Linked DNA regions of Homo sapiens. The protein of the gene in region 1 interacts with the protein of each later gene in a biochemical or structural test. Each region holds a gene or a part of one and is shown in the gene's direction. Other genes may lie near its edges.

Region 1 (3,600 bases):
TTATTGCACGAATAAATACTGCATTCAGGCATTGCCCTGGGTCACTGGGGCATGAATTTCAGTGCCTCTCGTGAAGTGTGTGGAGAGGGAAGTCAGGAAATATAAACATGTGATTATCCCAGGCTCAAACAATAGGGAGCTCTGTGGCAAACTAGAGTCTGCATGCCTACCTGAGGGGCTCACATTCAAATTCAGCCACCACCCCCACCCCGCAATCCCTACACATGTAAAGGGCAGGGACCCATTCTGGTCCTGAGCAATCTCACTTCTTTTCCCTTCCTCCGGCTTTATTTTTATTTTTATTTATTTATTTTTTTCTTTTCTTTCCTTTTTTTTTTTGAGATGGAGTTTCGCTCTGTCGCCCAGGCTGGAGTGCAGTGGCGCCATCTCGGCTCACTGCAAGCTCCGCCTACCGGGTTCACGCCATTCTCCTGCCTCAGCCTCCAGAGTAGCTGGGACTACAGGGGCCCGCGACCACGCCCGGCTAATTTTTTGTTTTAGTAGAGACCGGGTTCCACCGTTTTAGCCAGGATGGTCTCGATCTCCTGACCTCGTGTTCCGCCCGCCTCGGCCTCCCAAAGTGCTGGGATTACAGGCGTGAGCCACCGCTCTTGGCTCCCGCTTTATTTTTCTACTCTGTGCATACCACTTTAAAATACACTCTTGGCCCGGCGCAGTGGTTCACGCCTGTAATCTCAGCACTTTGGGAGGCCAAGGCGGGCAGATCACCTGAGGGCGGGAGTTCGAGACCAGCCTGACCAACATGGAGAAACCCCATCTCTACTAAAAATACAAAATTAGTTGGGTGTGGTGACTCGCGCCTGTAGTCCCAGCTACTCGGGAGGCTGAGGCAGGAGAATCGCTTGAACCCGGGAGGCGGAGGTTGTGGTGAGCCGAGATCGTGCCATTGCACTCCAGCCTGGGCAACAAGAGCGAAACTCCGTCTCAAAACAAAACAAAACAACAACAACAAAAACCAAACAAAACACTCTTAGCTGCTGATATTGAGTATCTATCTTCCCTCACACATGTGAACTATGAGATGGCAGAGTTTTGGTCTGTTCTGTCCTCTGCTGCAGCCCAGCCCCTCATCAGTGCCTGATACAGAACAGGCCTTCAATAGGTATGTGCCCCGCTCCTCCCTGCAGCGTCCAGGCTCCAGGCAGCATTCAGGGCTCAAGTTCGGAAGAGTGAAGGCCGTTGAGGGTCCCCTATTAGGCCCCAAGCCCCCTAGAGAGCTCCAACGACATGGCCTGGAGTTTGCTTTGGCGACAGCCGGTCCTGCTGGAACTAGGACATGAGGGTTAGCGATCCCGCCCCATGGGGTCACAGGGCAGAAGCTGCGGGCAGGGGTGGGCATCAGTGGGGCGGTGGTGCAGGGGGTGTCGCTCCCAAGTCAGCTCACACGCACGTCTTCAACACACCCACCACACAGGCACCCGCACGCACCAAGGGACGCCGAGGCTCGGGAGAGGAGGAAAGGCCAAGGCGATGGGGAGATGGGGAGAGAGGCAGGGAGCAACATCCCGGGCTCCGAGCGCGCCAGCTGGGAGGGCTGGGGAGGAGGGCGCACCGGAGGGCTCCCGGCACGCGCGGGGCCGCGGGCAGCCCCCAGAAGAGGGAGCCAGGCAAGACTGCTGGGGCAGGGGTCGGCTGAAGCAGCGGGGAGCCGGACCCCACCCGCCACCCGCCACCCGCCACCCCCGGCGCCTGCCAAACTGGTTGCTGCCTCCCCGGCAGCCGCGGCGCGTCCACCTGCGCAGCCACCGCGCCGCCCTGCCCGCGCTACCATTGGCTCGCTAAAAATGCCTCTCTAATCTGCTCTGCTCGGTGCACGCCTCCTCCTCATCCTTCCCCCCTCTCCGCCTCAGCTCTGACCTTCCTCCTTCCCGCAGCCCCGGCGAGATCCCAGAGCGACGCGGTGGCGGCGGCAGCGCCAGCCCCCTCCTCCCCCGGGAAGTCGGCCGGGCTTGAGGCCGGGCCCCAGACGTCCCGCTTCGCCCCGAGTCGCCGCCGATGGTCCCCGGAGCTCCTGCCCCCAGGTAGGAGGTCTGGCCCTTGAATAGAGGGCGGGGGGGTTGTGTGTGCGGGTGTCCAGTTAGGGAGTGCGTGTTGGAAGTGGGCGCCGGGACTGACATCTCCCTGGGCCAGAGCCCGGGCAGGGTTGGGCAGTTGCCTGGAGAGAAGCGGGTGCGCGTTCGGGGATGCCTTCAGGGGACGGAGTTCGCGGGCATCACCCAGGCAGTGCCAGGATGCCACTGCGCTGGGTCCCTTGGGGGAGCGAGCTGGCATCGGAGGCCCTTACCCCAGGAAAAGCGCCGGAAATAGGTTCCTTGGGAAGCTGGGGCCTGGGCCCGGGCGGTCCGGGTCTCTGGACTGCTACCAGAAGGGGTGGGTGGGCTGGTGCCAGCTTGGTGCATAGGCTATTTATGGATCAGAGTGGGCTGGGGAGAAACACAGCAGCTGATGCCTGTCTGGCTTATGGTTAAAGGTATTTCCTTCTGTCCCCTACCCCTTCCCCCACAGCTGGGATGGGAGCGGGGAGGGGGGAGGAGGCAAGAAGGAGGCGATAATGCTAAAAGGCCCCGCAGATACAGAAGCCATGGGCTGCTGGGCACTGCCCTCCCCTGCAAGCCCCAGGCCACTTGCTGCCTGTTGGAGCTGCCTCTGCCCCTTATTTTCACCTTACAAGAGGCTATGAAAAGGTTAAAGGGTCATCAGGGTGTAGGAGACATGGTGGCAAACCCGGGAGCTTGGCCAGACCCAGCTTCAAGCCCCAGCTGCCCCTACCCACAACAGCCCAGGTCTGCACCACATAGGCAGTGACACATATGGCCGCTTATTTCTAGGCACAACCATAAATAACCCACATTGCCCCAGCCCCTGGCACAGCTGGGGTGCAAACAGGACTGTCTGTCAGTGATTTTGCTTCCATCCTCCATCCTGGCCTTTCTATCACAAGTCCAAATCATCACCCTCCAGCAGCTTCCCTGATACCCCAGGTGAGATCCTTGCCCCCTGCCCTATGTTCTTGGACTGCCTTGTGGCTGGGTTATTTGTCTTGTTCATCTCCTTCTAGACCAGAAGTACCTTCAGGCTGGGAATCTGATTCATCTCTGTCATTGCCCCTGCACCAAAGCAGGGTTTGGCACCAAGAAAATATCTTGTGGAATGCATGACTTATTGAATGAGTGAATGTAAACTCTGGGAAATAGCTGGCAACCTGAGGGAGGGGGTCGAGCCCCTTCTTGGGCTTTCTCTCTATTCCCCAGGACCAAAGAGCCACTCCACTCAAACCAGGTGGTTCTCTTTAGTAGGCCCTTCCTTTTTTTTTTTTTTTTTTTTTTGAGAGAGAGTTTCGCTCTTGTTGCCCAGGCTGGAGTGCAATGGCACGATCTCAGCTCACCGCAACCTCTGCCTCCCGGGTTCAAGCGATTCTCCTGCCTCAGCCTCCTGAGTAGCTGGAATTACAGGCATGCACCACCACACCCGGCTAATTTTATATTTTTAGTAGAGACGGGGTTTCTCCATGTTGGTCAGGCTGGTCTCGAACTCCTGACCTCAGGTGATCTGCCCACCTTGGCCTCTCAAAGTGCTAGG
Region 2 (3,818 bases), on another chromosome or scaffold:
ATTCGCCAGCAGAGCCCAGCTCCTCCGCTTTAAAGCAGCAATGCCTCTGGCCCCCACCCCACCCCCGCCACCCAGGCGCAGCAGGTGCTTCCCGTCCCCCCAGCCCTGACACTCAGGCACCTGCTTGCTCCTTGCAGGTGTTTCAGACTCTGCACAGCACCGGGCAGTCGTCCATGGTCCGGGACTGGGTCATGCTGTCCCTCTCCAACTTCACGCAGAGGGCCCCGGTCGCCATGGCCACGTGGAGCCTCTCCTGCTTCTTTGTCAGCGCGTCCACCAGCCCGTGGGTCGCGGCGATGTATCCTCTCTGGGTCCCTGGTGCTGGCCCCGTTTCCCTTGTCAACACCGAGGCTCATGTTTCATGATAAGGTTTTGAAACCTAACCTTTGCAAAAACCCCACAGATGCCAGGGTGACAGGCCCTCAGCCCCAGGGAAGTAAAATGCTGACAGGGGTACAGAAAGGAGCACGTCCAGACATTTGCTGACCAGGGCCTCTCAGAGGGGCCGGTGTATGGCAGGAGGGTCGCAGCTGAGGGGCCTTTCTGTGGAGGGCCTGGGTGAGGGGAGCGAGGGTGGGCGGTGGTCTCTGCAGACGTCCCGCCCACTCGCGGGCTCTGTGTGGCTGGGCTTCTCCTGACACTGCTTCTCATTAGCTTTGGTCATTGTGCCTCGATCGCCCTCTCGGGGAAAGGCTTAAGTAAAGATCCAGTTCCCACCCCCAGATGCTGGCTGCCAGGAGTTTCCCTTTCCACAGCCCTTCCCCAAGACAGACCACAAGAGCCTCCAAGCAGCACAGTTGTCCTGGTGCTGACAGCACAGCCTTGCCCGGCGTGCCTGGCACGGCTCTGCCCTCACTGCATTGGAGCAGGGCTAGTGGAGGCCAGCGGAAGCACCGGCCACCAGCGCTGCACAGGAGCCAGGCCAGGTGAGTGCTGCCGAGTGGGTGCCCTGCCTGCAGGGCATCCAGCCAGCCAAGGGTTGCAGGAATGGAGGTGGAGGCGCTGATGCAGCTGGAGGCATCCAGGTGGCCCTTCCGGGGCTCTGCTCGCTCTCCAGGCTCCCTGGACCCCTTTGTAGACTGTTTCAGGAGAGGAACTCCCAGGTGAGGACAGGGAGGCAGCATTCCCCTCATTTGCCGGCCTTTTTCCTTAACTCCTGCACCAGCCTCCCACATGTCATCAGCAGGATGGGCAAGCTGGAGCAGGTGGACGTGAACCTTTTCTGCCTGGTCGCCACAGACTTCTACAGACACCAGATAGAGGAGGAGCTCGACCGCAGGGCCTTCCAGTCTGTGCTTGAGGTGGTTGCAGCCCCAGGAAGCCCATATCACCGGCTGCTGACTTGTTTACGAAATGTCCACAAGGTCACCACCTGCTGAGCGCCATGGTGGGAGAGACTGTGAGGCGGCAGCTGGGGCCGGAGCCTTTGGAAGTCTGCGCCCTTGTGCCCTGCCTCCACCGAGCCAGCTTGGTCCCTATGGGCTTCCGCACATGCCGCGGGCGGCCAGGCAACGTGCGTGTCTCTGCCATGTGGCAGAAGTGCTCTTTGTGGCAGTGGCCAGGCAGGGAGTGTCTGCAGTCCTGGTGGGGCTGAGCCTGAGGCCTTCCAGAAAGCAGGAGCAGCTGTGCTGCACCCCATGTGGGTGACCAGGTCCTTTCTCCTGATAGTCACCTGCTGGTTGTTGCCAGGTTGCAGCTGCTCTTGCATCTGGGCCAGAAGTCCTCCCTCCTGCAGGCTGGCTGTTGGCCCCTCTGCTGTCCTGCAGTAGAAGGTGCCGTGAGCAGGCTTTGGGAACACTGGCCTGGGTCTCCCTGGTGGGGTGTGCATGCCACGCCCCGTGTCTGGATGCACAGATGCCATGGCCTGTGCTGGGCCAGTGGCTGGGGGTGCTAGACACCCGGCACCATTCTCCCTTCTCTCTTTTCTTCTCAGGATTTAAAATTTAATTATATCAGTAAAGAGATTAATTTTAACGTAACTCTTTCTATGCCCGTGTAAAGTATGTGAATCGCAAGGCCTGTGCTGCATGCGACAGCGTCCGGGGTGGTGGACAGGGCCCCCGGCCACGCTCCCTCTCCTGTAGCCACTGGCATAGCCCTCCTGAGCACCCGCTGACATTTCCGTTGTACATGTTCCTGTTTATGCATTCACAAGGTGACTGGGATGTAGAGAGGCGTTAGTGGGCAGGTGGCCACAGCAGGACTGAGGACAGGCCCCCATTATCCTAGGGGTGCGCTCACCTGCAGCCCCTCCTCCTCGGGCACAGACGACTGTCGTTCTCCACCCACCAGTCAGGGACAGCAGCCTCCCTGTCACTCAGCTGAGAAGGCCAGCCCTCCCTGGCTGTGAGCAGCCTCCACTGTGTCCAGAGACATGGGCCTCCCACTCCTGTTCCTTGCTAGCCCTGGGGTGGCGTCTGCCTAGGAGCTGGCTGGCAGGTGTTGGGACCTGCTGCTCCATGGATGCATGCCCTAAGAGTGTCACTGAGCTGTGTTTTGTCTGAGCCTCTCTCGGTCAACAGCAAAGCTTGGTGTCTTGGCACTGTTAGTGACAGAGCCCAGCATCCCTTCTGCCCCCGTTCCAGCTGACATCTTGCACGGTGACCCCTTTTAGTCAGGAGAGTGCAGATCTGTGCTCATCGGAGACTGCCCCACGGCCCTGTCAGAGCCGCCACTCCTATCCCCAGGCCAGGTCCCTGGACCAGCCTCCTGTTTGCAGGCCCAGAGGAGCCAAGTCATTAAAATGGAAGTGGATTCTGGATGGCCGGGCTGCTGCTGATGTAGGAGCTGGATTTGGGAGCTCTGCTTGCCGACTGGCTGTGAGACGAGGCAGGGGCTCTGCTTCCTCAGCCCTAGAGGCGAGCCAGGCAAGGTTGGCGACTGTCATGTGGCTTGGTTTGGTCATGCCCGTCGATGTTTTGGGTATTGAATGTGGTAAGTGGAGGAAATGTTGGAACTCTGTGCAGGTGCTGCCTTGAGACCCCCAAGCTTCCACCTGTCCCTCTCCTATGTGGCAGCTGGGGAGCAGCTGAGATGTGGACTTGTATGCTGCCCACATACGTGAGGGGGAGCTGAAAGGGAGCCCCTCCTCTGAGCAGCCTCTGCCAGGCCTGTATGAGGCTTTTCCCACCAGCTCCCAACAGAGGCCTCCCCCAGCCAGGACCACCTCGTCCTCGTGGCGGGGCAGCAGGAGCGGTAGAAAGGGGTCCGATGTTTGAGGAGGCCCTTAAGGGAAGCTACTGAATTATAACACGTAAGAAAATCACCATTCCGTATTGGTTGGGGGCTCCTGTTTCTCATCCTAGCTTTTTCCTGGAAAGCCCGCTAGAAGGTTTGGGAACGAGGGGAAAGTTCTCAGAACTGTTGGCTGCTCCCCACCCGCCTCCCGCCTCCCCCGCAGGTTATGTCAGCAGCTCTGAGACAGCAGTATCACAGGCCAGATGTTGTTCCTGGCTAGATGTTTACATTTGTAAGAAATAACACTGTGAATGTAAAACAGAGCCATTCCCTTGGAATGCATATCGCTGGGCTCAACATAGAGTTTGTCTTCCTCTTGTTTACGACGTGATCTAAACCAGTCCTTAGCAAGGGGCTCAGAACACCCCGCTCTGGCAGTAGGTGTCCCCCACCCCCAAAGACCTGCCTGTGTGCTCCGGAGATGAATATGAGCTCATTAGTAAAAATGACTTCACCCACGCATATACATAAAGTATCCATGCATGTGCATATAGACACATCTATAATTTTACACACACACCTCTCAAGACGGAGATGCATGGCCTCTAAGAGTGCCCGTGTCGGTTCTTCCTGGAAGTTGA
Region 3 (3,818 bases), on another chromosome or scaffold:
GTGATGTTGCAATACATATAACATATAGTGATTAGGGTAATTAGCATATCTATCATCTCAAAAACTTATGTCTTTGTTTTGGGAACATGCAATATCCTTCTTCTAGCTATTTGAAACTATACAATATTGTTAACTATAGTCATCCTACAGTGCTACAGAACACTAGAACTTATACCTCCTATCTAGTTGTAATTGTGTATTTTACAACTTTGAAGTAGGTGTAATTATCCCTATTTAGACTATACCTGTATGAAACAGAAATTATTTTCATTTTACAGATGAGGAAACAGACGCAGAGAAGTAATTTGTCCAAAGTCCATAGGGTTGTAAGACTCATAACAAGAACTACAACTTGGGCCTATCTGAATCTTATACTTCTGGTACTATACTTGTTCACAGGTTTGAAAAGAGCTTTAATTTCTATTATTTCTCAAGAATTTGTAATGCTTTCTCTTGTCACTGTGCTTTCAACTTAGAGGAGTTGCAGTTTTGATAAAAGACAAACTGATTTAGCTTCTAGGTTTGTTAAATATGTAATTCAGAGGCAACTCCAGGCTTATATTTCTACGACTGCTTTCTAAATCTAATTATTTTATAAATAGTCCTGTTGCTTTAATTCACTTTTTACCCTAACATAATTAATCAAGTTTAACTTTGAAATCTCCATATTTTATGTGAGAACTCCCAAGGCTATCCACTTTTATTTTCCTTTGTAAATTTATTGTTGCTCAGCCTATTTCATTAATGGCAGCTTTAATTATAATATTTTATTATATTTTCAAAGTGCATGATAATGGTTTACCAGTCTGGTTAGTACATCAGAGATTTCTATTGGGAGCTATCAGAGATGTTAACATCCAACAATTTTACCAAAGTGTAATTGTTATAGACGTCTTAACATGAATTTACGCAACAAAAATATGTTTAATGTGGAGAACAGTGAGATGCATATTTGATAATTCACTGCAGTCTGCATCATCATCTCTATATTCCAAAATTTCGTCTTAAGCCGTTTAGTATTTAACTTACAGAAGAAAGGGGGTTATCTTAGATAACTTTTAATATCCTAAGGTATTTTCCAATTCACGATACAGGGAGAAAAGAAATGTGTCCAGGCCCTTAGAAGAAAATACTTTGAATTTAAATGTGACACATACATTAAACCCGCGTGACACGCCAGGCAGGCGGTGGAAGTCAAGTGCATTTGTTTTTGTTTCATCCACCAGGGCGATCTCTTTCACAATTCTGGGAGAGGCCTGTTTGTTCCTCCACTCCCACAGCTGAAGTTTGGGACAAAGTTTGAGAAAATCCCAGGCACCTGCGGCTCCTATCGAAGCCGGCGAGGAGCACAGGGTAGAGCGTCTCTTCCCAGTTTTCAGTCTTCAGATCGCAGGCCTCTCGGACCCGCAGAGCGAGCTTCACGCTGCAGCGCTTGAGAAATAAGAGCTATTCCAAGGAGGGGCCCTGGGTCCTCACTGACGCTTCGCAAAGGTGTACGTCCGCCCAGGGAAGGCCGGCGGCGCAGCGACGGCGAGGAGTCCCCATCCATCTTCTCTTCAAGCAGCAGTAGCTGGGTTCGGGTACCCAACCGACGAGCCGAGACGCCAGAGGCCAGAGTACGAAGTTGGAAGCCTGCGCCCCAAGCCAACCGGGATTCCACTTAGCTCCGCGCGGTCCGCGCCTCGGCCGGAAGGGGGCGTGGCTTCGGGCCCGCGCCGCGAGGCCCGCCGCCGAGTGGGGGGGTTTCTCCCGGGCCGCAGCCGCGCGTTTCCGGCGCGCTCCCCCGCGCCCTCCGTCCTGTGGTCTCGCCCGCCCCCGCTGCCATGTTGGATTGTGCGGCCGCCGCCGCCGCTGCGGGAGGGTTGGGGGAGGAGTTGGGAGTTTAGCGCAGTCGCCGGAGTGCGAGGACAACGACCATCCGGCCCTAGCCTGGCCGGGCGGGTGCCGGGAGCTTCCCTTTCTCAGCGCGGCGCGAAGGTGGCTCGCCGTCAGCGCCTGCTTCCCTCGACCTCGTCCTCCTCCCCGCTCCGGAGGAGCTGCGAGATGTGGCGCCTCTGACTCCACTTCTCCCCGCCCCTGTCACCGAGAGGGGGAACGAGCTCTCGCCCACTCGCCGGAGGAGACGGCCCTGGACTCCCAACCCCGCCGGCGAAACCATGAGCTCCGTCCAGCAGCAGCCGCCGCCGCCGCGGAGGGTCACCAACGTGGGGTCCCTGTTGCTCACCCCGCAGGAGAACGAGTCCCTCTTCACTTTCCTCGGCAAGAAATGTGTGGTCAGTGGACGAGACCCGCGTCGCCACCCGTGACATTACCTCACGGGCCCGGGCTTGGGGGCCGGGAAGTGGGAGTGGGGAAGGAGGCGGGAGCGGCGCGGGCCAGGCCTCCCGCCAGCCCCGGCCCCGGCCCCGGCCCCTCGTCGGCGCCCTCGCCCTGCTCCCAGGGTGCGGGCCGTGGCGGTCGGGCGCCGCCTTCCCGAGCTGCTGGAGAATAAGGGAGTGTCACCTCCGCAGGCCTGTCCTCCAGCCTGGCCGGGCCTCGGCCCGCGCCCTTGCTGCTGGTTAAAACTTTATTCTCAGGCCACAAGGGGATTTTCTTGCAAGAGCCGCTTGGTCCTAGAATCTGGGCCCTTGTTCTAGCTCTCGCTTCACCTCTTACTGCTTGATCTGGGGGTACGTTCCTTAACAATGCCAGGTTTGAGGAGTGGATAGGTCGGGGAAGGAAGGTGGTTTTTAATCTCCCATTAGGATTCCAGGAGGGAATGAAGTCGAGTGCAAGAGCCTGGGCTCTCTTCGGATTAGAGAGGGTGCAAGAAATGTTATTGCTCTTCGTTAAAGAGAAACAAGATTTATTTCTCTAGCAACCTTGCCTAGGCCTGGTTTCTACTCTCCTTCCCACTGATTTTTTTTTTCCCCCCATTGGTGGGAGGGGGTGCTGCTCTCCCCGCAGCCATGCGCAGGGAAACCTCAATCTCTGGTAGCTCTTGGCTTTTGGGGCCGAGAATGATTCTTAGTTTGGTGCTGTGCGGCCAATTCCAACCCCAGATGGCCGGTTGGGAGCGAGCAGTTCTGCTGTGGGAAGGGGAATGTGTGTTGTTGACGGAAGCATTCATTACATTGGCTGCTGGCAATTCTGGGGGTGGGGAGGTTCTGCTCTGTGGTGTAGGCCTTGTCGGGATCATACTGCGGTGACTGGGTTGAAGTGTGGTTTGTTGAAATACTGGCTGGATCCCTTTCTCTCCACTTTGCTAGCACCTGCAGAGTATGTGCCACTGGAACCCAGAAAACACGGAAATTTCAACAAAGCAATACCATTTTATAACTCCTTTAAGTAATATTAGGTATGCCAAACCAGATTTCACCTGCTTCTTTAAGAAGTTAGGATTAGACAATTTCTGGAAAGTTATTGGATTCATTGTTAACTTCATAGGAGTCCACCCTTTGTATCTTGTGCCATCCGGTTGGAGATTGAATCGTTCCATTCAATTTCAGATGTGTTTCATATTTCGGAATTTAGACCTTAGAGAACATTGAGTTTCCTGATTAGAAGGATGAAACAAGAGGAGTGGCTCAAAACGAGAATTTTGGGTAACAACTTTAAGCCCCTCCCCATTCACACACACTTTTTTCAACAAATGAGAAAACTGATCCAGTGAGCCCAAGTCATACAGCAATTTAATAATGTAACCAGAACTAGAAAACCAGGACTCCTCACACCTAGTCCTATCCCATTGTACTTTGCACTACATCATGTTGTTTTAGAAGGGTATTTTTTTTTCCTGTTACTGATTTATTTCTAAAAGTGGTGTTAAAGAAATAACC

What was found.
Region 2: the proteins of PACSIN1 (region 1) and HTT form a complex in vitro, tested with the Homo sapiens proteins (2 studies listed by BioGRID and IntAct).
Region 3: the proteins of PACSIN1 (region 1) and WASL form a complex in vitro, tested with the Homo sapiens proteins (one study listed by BioGRID).

The regions. Positions count from the first base shown.
Region 1 is NC_000006.12:34,464,229-34,467,828, forward strand, and holds the start of PACSIN1 (protein kinase C and casein kinase substrate in neurons protein 1), read left to right. Parts: upstream 1-1,847; 5' UTR 1,848-2,042; intron 2,043-3,600. UniProt on the Homo sapiens protein: Plays a role in the reorganization of the microtubule cytoskeleton via its interaction with MAPT; this decreases microtubule stability and inhibits MAPT-induced microtubule polymerization.
Region 2 is NC_000004.12:3,238,681-3,242,498, forward strand, and holds part of HTT (huntingtin), read left to right. Parts: intron 1-137; coding exon 138-298; intron 299-1,165; coding exon 1,166-1,379; 3' UTR 1,380-3,818.
Region 3 is NC_000007.14:123,747,073-123,750,890, reverse strand, and holds the start of WASL (actin nucleation-promoting factor WASL), read left to right. Parts: upstream 1-1,887; 5' UTR 1,888-2,156; coding exon 2,157-2,273; intron 2,274-3,818. UniProt on the Homo sapiens protein: Regulates actin polymerization by stimulating the actin-nucleating activity of the Arp2/3 complex. Involved in various processes, such as mitosis and cytokinesis, via its role in the regulation of actin polymerization.